Linked DNA regions of Homo sapiens: region 2 is linked to region 1. The links come from fine-mapping of genetic effects on gene expression. A gene starts in region 1. The other region holds a variant in brackets. All regions are shown on one strand. Distances are between the middles of the regions. Region 1 holds the start of VMP1 (vacuole membrane protein 1). Region 2 overlaps VMP1 (vacuole membrane protein 1).

The links. PIP is the estimated chance that this variant, and not a neighbour inherited with it, causes the effect. A credible set is the group of variants that fine-mapping cannot tell apart.
Region 2: its variant is the best candidate, but not a certain one, in a credible set for the expression of VMP1 in whole blood (TOPMed, PIP 0.67).

The regions. Positions count from the first base shown.
Region 1 is chr17:59,705,250-59,710,629 of GRCh38, forward strand. It overlaps VMP1 (vacuole membrane protein 1), which reads left to right and starts at 2,405. Exons shown (of 12, transcript NM_030938.5): 1 at 2,405-2,499. PTRH2 (peptidyl-tRNA hydrolase 2) reads right to left here and starts at 2,181. Exons shown (of 2, transcript NM_016077.5): 1 at 2,122-2,181. RefSeq lists enhancers at 1,995-2,650, 2,451-2,510.
Region 2 is chr17:59,824,678-59,830,057 of GRCh38, forward strand. All of the region lies in intron 10 of VMP1 (vacuole membrane protein 1), which reads left to right. Among named protein-coding and RNA genes, the nearest start is that of MIR21, 14 kb to the right of the region's middle. RefSeq lists an enhancer at 5,102-5,291. The variant A/C (reference allele first, on the strand shown) is at 2,264.

The DNA.
Region 1 (5,380 bases):
CTGGAGAAGGAACTGCTCTACATAGAGAAGCTATTATGTGCTGGATAACATACTAAATCCTTTATATCCATTACCTCATTTATTGTTGCTATGAACACATAAAAAGGAAGATATATTAGCCTCATTTTAAAGATGAGAAATATGAGGATCAAACAGAGAAGTTGCCTTTTTCTTTATTTTTTTTTAAAGAGAAGGGGTCTCCCTCTGTCACCCAGGCTAGAGTTCAGTGGCATGATCATAGCTCGCTACAGCCTCAAACTCCTGGGCTTAAGCAATTCTCCTACCTCAGCCTTCCAAGTAGATGGGACTACAGGTGCATGCCACCACACCCTCCTGATTTTTTAAAAATTTTTTATTTTTGTATGGACTTGGTCTTGCTATGTTGCCCAGGCTGGTCTGGAACTCCTGGCCTCAAGGAGTTGCTTGAGGTCGAGGCAGCAGCATCTCGAGTCCAGTTCAAAACCAATCTGGGCAACCCAGTGAGACCTCATCTTTACAAAAAATTTAAATAATTAGCCAGATGTGGTGCCACATGCCCATACTCCCAGCTACTCAGGGGATAAGGTAGGAGGACACCTCAGGCTGGGAGGTGGAAATTGCAGTGAGCCATGATCGTGCCACTGCACCCCAGGCTGGACAACAATGCAAAACCCTGTCTCCAAAAAAAAAAAAAAACCCAATAAGATCAAAAACAGGACAGTGAAAGTTCCAAAAGTTACCAAGTTTATTTATTATGTCCCATATCTCAATGGAGTGTCTAATCATAAAAATGCTAAAATTAACACATATTTTTGTTCTTTAGGATGTTCTAATCTCATATTAATCTGATCAGATTATCATCTAACTCCTCTAAAACAACATGTCTGTCTCTTTTTCTGTACACTTACGACAAGCGTATCAATAAGCCTAGTGCCTAAGACTAAGGTAAAACAAATAACCATTCTTTGTCTCATAAATAATTCTGGGCAATGACAGCAGAACAAAATAAGTACATCCTATAAAATCTTCTTCTTGGTGCCTTCTAATTCCCCTGCCTCAGTAAACCCATTTCAGTAGTGCTCTTGATCCCATTACCTCCTTCTGCACCATGCTCCACCCGTTAATCTTTTTTTAAGAGACAGGGTCTCACTATGTGGCCCCCTATGTGGCCCAGGCTGTTCTCAAACTCCTGGGCTCAAGCAATCCTCCTGTCTCAGCCTCCCAAAGTGTTGGATTACAGGCTGAGCCACCGCGCCGGGTCTGCAGTTTACAACCGAAAAAAACAAACAAACCTTTCCCAAATCTTCTCTGACCCTTAAGCCACTGCCCCACTTTCCCTGTATAACATATTCCCAGAGTCTAGTATGGTGCCTGGGGTATGTCAGTAAGGATTAATACCTCTCTAGTTAATCTCTTTGTGTGAAAAAGGGGGGAAATTTTTTCTTTCTTTTTTTTTTTTTTCTGAGACGAAGTCTCACTCTGTCGCCCAGGCTGGAGAGCAATGGAGCGATATCGGCTCACTGCAACCTCCGCCTCCCGAGTTCAAGTCATTCTCCTGCCTCAGCCTCCCGAGTAGCTGGGATTACAGGCACGCGCCACCACGCCGGCTAATTTTTGTATTTTTAGTATAGATGGGTTTTCGCCATGTTGGCCAGGATGGTCTCGAACTTCTGACCTCAGGTGATCCGCCCACATCAGCCTCCCAAAGTGCTGGGATTACAGGCGTCAGCCACCGCGCCCGGCCCCAAATTTTCGACTATATTCTTAGAAACCAATTCTTTCCACGCAGAGCTCGACAGCTCGAAACGCTGGGGATATTCATAAGTGCCCAGCTGAGGGTATGAGGCCTGCTCGCTATTTTATCAATTTCGGAGAGAGCGCATCGATACTGCCTGCCTGGAGGCTTTGCTGGGAACTAGAAATTCTGAGTCTTCCCCTCCCCAGCAGCCTGTTCCTTTCCTCCAAAGGACGGTTCGCAGAACAGGAACAGAGGGCTCAGCGGCCCCTGGGCGGAAGACAGTTTATAAAGGAGAAAATGAAGAAGGTGGGTAATGCAACGAGGTGAAAAGAAACGTTCCTACTGGCGAGAAAATGAATAATGATATTGGTCTCCTTCGCCCTGTAAGGAGCCAACCAACCTACCTACAGTACCTCCTTTCCTCACTCGCGCCTTCCCTTCTTCTGGGCAGCGAACACGTTTCTATCGCGTGAGCTACCTCTTCCGGGGTTCCTGGGTGACAAGTTCCGGATCAAGAATCACAAAGCGAGCAGTCATTCTTCCTCTTGCCACACCCACAGGGCCCGCACTAAGAGCCTAACTGAAATCCCGCGAGGATCAACCGAGCTCGCCGAAAGGAGGGAGGAACGTATCCCTTCTGGAGGCTGTCTCAGGGGGCAGAGGGACCGGACCGGAAGTGACGTGAGCGGGTTCCGGTTGTCTGGAGCCCAGCGGCGGGTGTGAGAGTCCGTAAGGAGCAGCTTCCAGGATCCTGAGATCCGGAGCAGCCGGGGTCGGAGCGGGTAGGTAAACTAACTCAGGGAATTGGGGACCGAAGCCTGAGGCTGTCCTCAGAGCTTGGCGTCTTCCGGAGCTCTCCCACTTAGGCATTGCGGATCTGGGGCACTGTGATTCCGACTTCCAGCAGTGTTTTAGGACGCTGCTGACTGGATGTCTCACCCTGGATGTCTCACGCTGGCGGTAGCCAGGTTATTTGGGACACCTTCTCATGGTTGGTCACCCGGACATTGAACCCAGACACCGGGCTGTTCGTTCTCCTCTCCGCGTACTTGGAAGCCTTGCTAGGCTTCTTTAGAGAACCTCTTAGTCCCGGGATGTCCAGGACCTTGGAGTAAGTGGAGAAGGTCTTCCCTGCTGATGACTGAGCTATTTCTCAGGATCTGTCAGTTTGGTTTTTGCTCTCCCGAACCTCTGGCGCATGATGCTAGATGTATTCGCTCCTAAACGAAATCCAGGCGTGCAAGTGCCATCTAAAGCTCTGGTGGTACAGGGTAGCCAAGGGAATGGGCCTTCGCTCCGCAGAGCCCTTGGAGAGGAACTTCTCAGATTTTTCACTGCTTTAATGAAAAAGAGTTGTCTGCCTTTCCAAACCCCTGAACCCCGACCTCTATATCTTATTACAGTGGAGGTATTTGCAGTAAAACGTGAAGGTCGACTTAATCTCTAAAATTCCAGAAACCATATGTGGCCCTGTGTCACACTGCTAGATTACTTATGACCTCCAGAAGATTTTACACAATCATCTTTTATTTACCTGCAACTCCATGTAAAAATCTAATAATACACGTAGACTGGCCACTGTTGATGTGTTTTGGCAGCATCGCTCCTTATCCTAATGTTAACGTCTTTCATTTCTACTTTGGGGCTTGTCAGAGATTTTTGTGGACAGATTACATTGATCATTTGAAGAAGCTTGTACAAGTGTTTCTGGTGTTGTCATGATAGAATTTAATATTCCAGTTGCTACTACCTAGTAATTGTATTGTCATTAGCTCTGATTTTAGTTGTGTATTCTTAGCATAGATGATGAAAGGAAGAAACTTACTTACTAGGCATCATTGTATGCATTGTAGCTTATGTTTTTACTGTGGAAGAGGGATGGTGGTACCTAGACAAATGTGACTGATTTGTGTAGGTATGAAGTGACTCTCTCGAGTAGAAATTTTATATTTTACTACTTTGCCTACATTATCTTAAGGCACTGAAGGTTACTTTTTTCCTTTGAGGGATATATCCTACTTGATTACAATTGATTAATACAGTTTAATTTCTATGAGTCACATTCCAGAAGAAAATATACATAGAACCATGATGCCTTTTACCAGTTTACCTATAGCTAGTTAAATCAGTTTGTCAGTTTACATATTTTTCTTATTTTGAGTTTGAAAATTTGTTCACGCTTGGCTTTGAAACAAGGTGACAAAATTTGAGATATGGAATTATGATAGATGTATCATTAGTTTAACATTCGGTAAATTTGCTTCTTGATTATATAACTGCCAAATCTGATCTTATCTTCTTTATGTTCAATTGAAGGACTGATTATCCAGTTTTTCTCACTTTTCCAACTTCTCGCTTTTGGCTTGAATCACCACTTTTTAGGATTTTGGTAACTATTAAACTTTAAATCAGAAGACCTGGATTGAAGTCTGGGCTCCAACACTTGTTAAGTAATGGCTGATAGGTTACCTAACATTCTGAGCTGGTCTAGATTGTGTTGATAAAAATTCTGCTCACTTTCTTTCATACAACTGTCACAAAGATTAAATGAGCTAGTAAACATGAAATTATTAAATATGAAAATATGGTATCACTTTACTCTTAGAACTGGAGATATGTCAGTGTAGAATACTGTTACTTTGCATCATTATCTGAAAATATTATCACATACTTTTCTGAGATGATCTTTGCCCCACCTTTGAAAGTTAGCAAAGAATAGTTTGATACCGTGATCCATTGAATTAGTCACCATGGTTAATAAATAGGTTCCTGGAAAATGAGTATAGTTTTGCATTCGGGAGTTTAAATCTGATCCTTTTTGGTCGTCATGTATTGTCACTTCAGAACTTCCAAGTGCAGAAAAAGCTGAAGTTTTTTGCCTACGTATAGTTAACTAAAGAGTAGAAGTAGTCCTATCTTACTTACATTAAATAAGAAACCTTATTATTGGGCCGGGCGCGGTGGTTCACGCTTGTAATCCCAGCACTTTGGGAGGCCGAGTTGGGCGGATCACGAGGTCAGGCGATCGAGACAATCCTGGCTAATACAGTGAAACCCTGTCTCTACTAAAAATACAAAAAATTAGCCGGGCGTGGTGGCAGGCGCCTGTAATCCCAGCTACTCCGGAGGCTGAGGCAGGAGAATGGCGCGAACCCAGGAGGCGGAGCTTGCAGTGAGCCGAGATTGCGCCACTGCACTCCAGCCTGGGAGACAGAGCCAGACTCCGTCTCAAAAAAAAAAGAAACATTATTATTTCACTGAAACCAATATTTAGAATTAGAAGGAATCTCTGTGAATGTATAAGTAGATTCCCATTTAACAGAGGAGAAAATTAAGGCTCAGAAACAATCAGTAATTAGTAATTGGCTTGCTTGAGGTCATCTGGCTTAGGTAGTGCTAGAACCTGAACTGTAAGGTCTCAAGTGTTCTTTCTGTTCTAACAAGGTTGTATCCAGGCATCTTATTATGGTTTGGTAATATTTCCAAGTTCACATGAAAATAATTACTCTTAGGTATTAAAGGGATCTATCCACATACACACGTAAATACACACATACGCACATAAGCCTTATTTACAAACTTTTTTTCCCTCTTTAGCTAGTTTAGTCTTATAAATTGTAGCATAACAAAAACTGTGCTTGGCTAGATTTGAAGTGTAATAGA
Region 2 (5,380 bases), 120 kb after region 1:
GCCTGGCCAACATGGTGAAACCCCATCTCTACTAAAAATACAAAAATTAGCCAAGCGTGGTGATGGGTGCCTGTAGTCCCAGCTACTCAAGAGGCTGAGGTGGGAGAATCTCTTGAACCCAGGAGGTGGAAATTGTAGTGAGCCGAGATTGCGCCACTGCACTCCAGCCTGGGTGACAGAGCAAGACTCCGTCTCAAAAAAAAAAAAAAAAAAAAAATTGGCTAGGCATGGTGGCTCACGCCTGTAATCCCAGCACTTTGGGAGGCCGAGGCAGATGGATTGGTTGAATTCTCAGGAATTTGAGTCCAGCCTGGTCTCGAACATGGCGAGACCCAAAGTCAGGTGATAGAACCAAAGAACTAGGGAACTTCTAGCTCAAAAGGCATTATGTTAGTTGTGATTTTTTTTTTTTTTTTTTTTTTTTTTTGAGACAGAGTTTTGTTCTATTGCCCAGGCTGGAGCGCTGTGGTGCAATCTCGACCCACTGCAACCTCTGCCTCCTGTGTTCAAGCGATTCTCCCGAGTAGCTGGGATTACAGGCACCTGCCACCATGCCTGGCTAATTTTTGTGTCTTTAGTAGAGACAGGATTTCACGATGTTGGCTAGGCTGGTCTCAAACTCCTGACCTCATGATCCACCCGCCTTGGCATCCCAAAGTGCTGGGATTACAGGCATAAGCCACCGTGCCCAGCCCTTTTTGTTTTTTTAATTACGATTTAATACTAATTTTTATTTAATTTTAGACTTTCTCCAGTGGGAGAGACCTGTGCATATTTCTTAAAGAGCATAACCAAATCTAACTTTTAAAGTTATGATTAAAATGACATGTTCCCATATTCTCACCAAATAGGGGATGTGAATTCCCAGAAAATAACATTAAGCATATGACTCGCAGCAAACCATATGCAGAACATTGGCTCATTGTCATGTTGCCAGGGTCTTATTGGAAGACAAAGTCCCCAGTTTTACCACACAAGAAAAGTTTCCATAACTCAATCATTGAACTTGAGGGCTGGGGGATGGTGTTGGCTGGAACAGGGACTTTTTACCAGATACAGAATGTTCCATGCTCTTCTTTGCTGTCTCCTATTTCTGAGCTAACTTGATGCTTGACCTCAGAGTCAGGCTTGCCTGTGGCAAGAGAGATCATTTTAACCAGTGAGTAATAAAGTGCTTGAATCCGAATGTTGTTTCTTATCCCTCACTCTATGGAAAGTGGTCAGAATGAGCTACGTGGGCCTGGACTTTTTCTTCTACAGAAAGAAAATCTGTCCTTTCATTTTAGAGGATAAAATGGTCCATGTATTTGATTCTCTTTGACTTTGATCATTGAAAATAATCAGAAAAAGTTATGGAAGTGTGGAACCCCAGCATTTGTATTATCTGATGAAAGGATAGAATTTAAGGCTTAACACAGGGTTTAAACCCCAGCTGCCGAGACTCAGTTATACAGTCTAACATAACCTCTTTCTGCAGCTTGGGAAAACCCCTTTCTCTTCTTGTCCGTGGTAGTTTATATATCCTTCTCTTTTGACAGTTAACCTTTCTATATGTTTGTTATGGATATTGGGAGACCACATAAAGGTTAAAACAGGAGTTCTGGAGTTAGACTGTTAGATGAGAAATGGGTACATTGTATTTGGAAGTTACCGTTGACCATTTAATGGAGCATTTTAGTAGCATGATGAAAATTAAAACCCAAATATATTGGATTACATGGAATTGTGGGCTAGAGGAAAGGTCAAGCGAAAGTCATGTCTGACACATTTTAATTGTTTTGTAAATATTTGTTGACCAGATGAATTAATTCATTCATTAAATAGGAGGGACCAGTGTGTATTTTAGGCTGAGGGAAAAACTCTAGTAAAATGCTAGAGATAGAAAATATAAATGAAGAAAGGGAAGGATGTGGGAAGGAAATTAACATTCAGTAAGCACCCACTGTGCCAGATGCTTTACATAAATATTCATTTCATATCCATAACAAAACCTGTTAGGTACTATTACAGAGAAGTTAAATTCATATAAATGATAAGAGATGATTGAGATAGGATCAATTCTGGAGTGGATTGATTATCCTCATGAACCAGTTCTTTCTTGAAAACTGGAGTGAAGACTCCAAGATGTTTTGAGGCAGAGAAGGGGGACACTCCTGAGGGAGCACTCTGGAAGCCAGTGAAGTCATTTGCTGGAAGTTGGAAATTTAGACTAGAGCACCAGTTTCAAACAGCTGCTGTGTGAATTTGGTAGGGATGCAGCATG[A/C]ATTCTGTCTATTCTCCTGTGCACACGTGCATCCACCTGTGTGCAGCTGTAGCTAGTTACTACTGTGGTTACTTTCAATGAAAAACCTACTGGTTTCTGTAGTGTACATTTAAGTGCATTTTTTCCCCTCTCCCAGCATCCTTCTAGATAGAGTTCCTTGAGGACAGAGATCATAACTTTTTTTTAAGTGAGATTGAATTTCAATCAATACTGTCACTTTTTTTTTCTTTTTTGAGACAGGGTCTCGCTGTGTTGCCCAGGCTGATCTTGAACTCCTGTGCTCAAGTGATCCTCCTGCCTCAGCCTCCCCAAATGCTGGGATTACAGGCATGAGCCACTGTGTCCTGCCAATACTATCACTTTTTTGGTTTTTTTGTTTGTCTGTTTGTTTTTTGAGACCAAGTCTTGCTCTGTCGCCCAGCCTGGAGTGCAGTGGCGTGATCTCAGCTCACTGCAACCTCTGCCTCCTGGGTTCAAGCAATTCTTCTGCCTCAGCCTCCCAAGCAGCTAAGACTACAGGCATGCACCACCACCCCCAGCTAATTTTTGTATTTTTACTAGAGTCGGGGTTTCACCATATTGGCCAGGCTGGTCTCAAACTCCTGACCTCAGGAGGCCTCGGCCTCCCAAAGTGCTGGGATTACAGGCATGAGCCGCTGTGCTGGCCTGATTTTTAAGTTTTAGAACTCAGTGAGTCTTCAAACCAGTGCAGATCTGTCACTATAAAAAGCTGCCACCAGGCCCACTCACACCTGTAATCTTAGAACTTTGGGAGGCTGAGGCGGGATTGCTTGAGCCCAGAAGTTTGAGACCAGCCTGGACAACATGGTGAGACCCCATCTCTTGAAAAAAATTTAAAAATTAGCTACTGTGGCCCCAGCTACTCGGAAGGTTGAGGCAGGAAGATTGCTTGAGCCCGGGAGGTCAAGGCTGCAGTGAGTCGTGTTTGTGCCATTGCACTCTTGAGTGGGCAACAGAGCAAGATCCTGTTCCCAAAAAAAAGCTGCCACTGGGGCCAGGTGCAGTGCCACTCGCCTGTAGTTCCAGCTACTTGGGAGGCTGAGGCAAGAGACACAACCTCTTTAAAAAAAAAAAAAAAAGCTGCCACCAGTCTGTCATTTTCTATAAATGCAATCAGTTGATTTTTAACAGAGTTTTGTTTTGGCAACCAATCAGTTTTACCTAGTCCTTATAGACCACTCCTTTAGCTCTGGCCACATTCATCAGCACAAATGCCTGCTTTTCTCCTGCTGCTCAAGTCTGCCTTCTGAAATGAGGTTTTGTTCTCTAGAGCTTCTCTTTAATGTTAGCTTATTTCAAAGAGTAGCTGCTAATGATAAGGAAGTCTAACCTCCAATCTGATTCTTACAGAAAATAATGCTAAATCTCCAAAAGCTAGGGCAATTGCAGATTATTTTGTGATAAAATATGCTGTAAGGCAGTAGAAACAATGTACCTGATAAAATACACCTGGAGAAAGCATGGTCTTCCTTCTACACAGCCAGAAAGAAACCCATGGTGTCATGTGTTCATAATACCACTCTGCGTACAATGGACTAACTTAAGTACAAAAGAAGTTTTAATCATTTGAAAGGGCACAGATGTGAATGAAATTCAAGATGTTTTAATCCCAGATCCTGGGGTCAAATCACAACGAATTTTAGAAGGTGCCAGGGACTGTCAGTCCAAACTTGTATATATGAGAAAGCCCTAGATTTTCTAGTATAGTGTGTGATTTTCATCCTGAATTTATTTTATGTTGGGGTGCCATTCCAAGATCCTGGATGTAAAGAAACATGATTAGGGGGCTACCACATTTCAGATCCAAAGCAAGTAGAATACATCAGTTACCAGTTTTTTCTTATAGTATCAGCTTCAAAGATTCATATACTGAGCCAGGCACAGAGGCTTATGCCTGTAATCCCAGCATTTTGGGAGGTCAAGGCAGGCGGATCACTTAAGGTCAGGAGTTTGAGACCAGCCTGACCAACATGGTGAAACCCTGTCTCTACTAAAAATACAAAAACTAGCAGGGTGTAGTGGTGCCTACCTGTAATCCCAGCTACTCAGGGGGTTGAGGCAGGAGAATCGCTTGAAGCCGGGAGGTGAAGGTTGCAGTGAGCCGAGATTGCGCCACTGCACTCCATCGTGGGTGATAGAGCCAGACTCCGTCTCCAAAAACAAAACAAAACAAAACAAAAAGATTCATGTGTTCTATTCAGTTAAATGGTAAAGATAATAACACTTTCATTCCAGTCACACAGGATAACTAGATCCTTTTTTACTAGGTTAAATATGTGTTTATTTTCAGTTAGCACCTGTTCATTTACTTATTCTGGATTAATAAAGGGCTGAAAGGCTGTAGATATTAATGAGTCAGCATGATGGCCTTTGGCTTCTTCAGAAAGATTGCATGATAAACTCCCCCACCCTTTTCCGAGCAGTCTACCTTACTAGGAAAGGCAGTTTCATGTGGAGGGCAATCTGTCATTTTTGAATAAGGGCAAGAGTCTGAGGTCCATTCTGAGTCACTATGAATAGAGCTCTAGTATTGGTTGGTCCCCAGGGAAACTGGTGGTTAAATACTGTGAGAATCTTTATCAGACAGGAAATGACAACTCATTAAAATACTAGCCGTTAAGCCTGTTTAGATCACTGCCTAGGGGGTAGGAAGGAAAATTTAACTCTATAATGTTTGACTAAAATGTGCACATTTCTGAAGATGGAGAATTATTTACAAGACTGTTACCGAGAAAGGGAATTGCTAGGCTGTCTTGTTGCTGATCTTCTCCCACACCCTCTTTTCCTCTTTTGTACATATAACAGATCAGCTTGTAATGGGAGTAGGATAGGGAAGGGCTTTAATTTCATTCCTGAAAGTGTATCCTACTATTGCCTTAAATGTAAAATTCAGTCTCTTCAGCAGAAGAGGCGGTTGTTGGCTTCAGTTAGAACAGGATCATTTTCTATATAGGAGTCTACTCCTGTGCTCCTGGGCCAAATCTCAATTGATAGAACTCTCTGGGGTCAGAGGATAAATTTGATGTATTGATTTACATACAGTGGTCCTCATTCAATCAAGAAAATTCTAAAGATCCTGATATTCATTTAGAACAT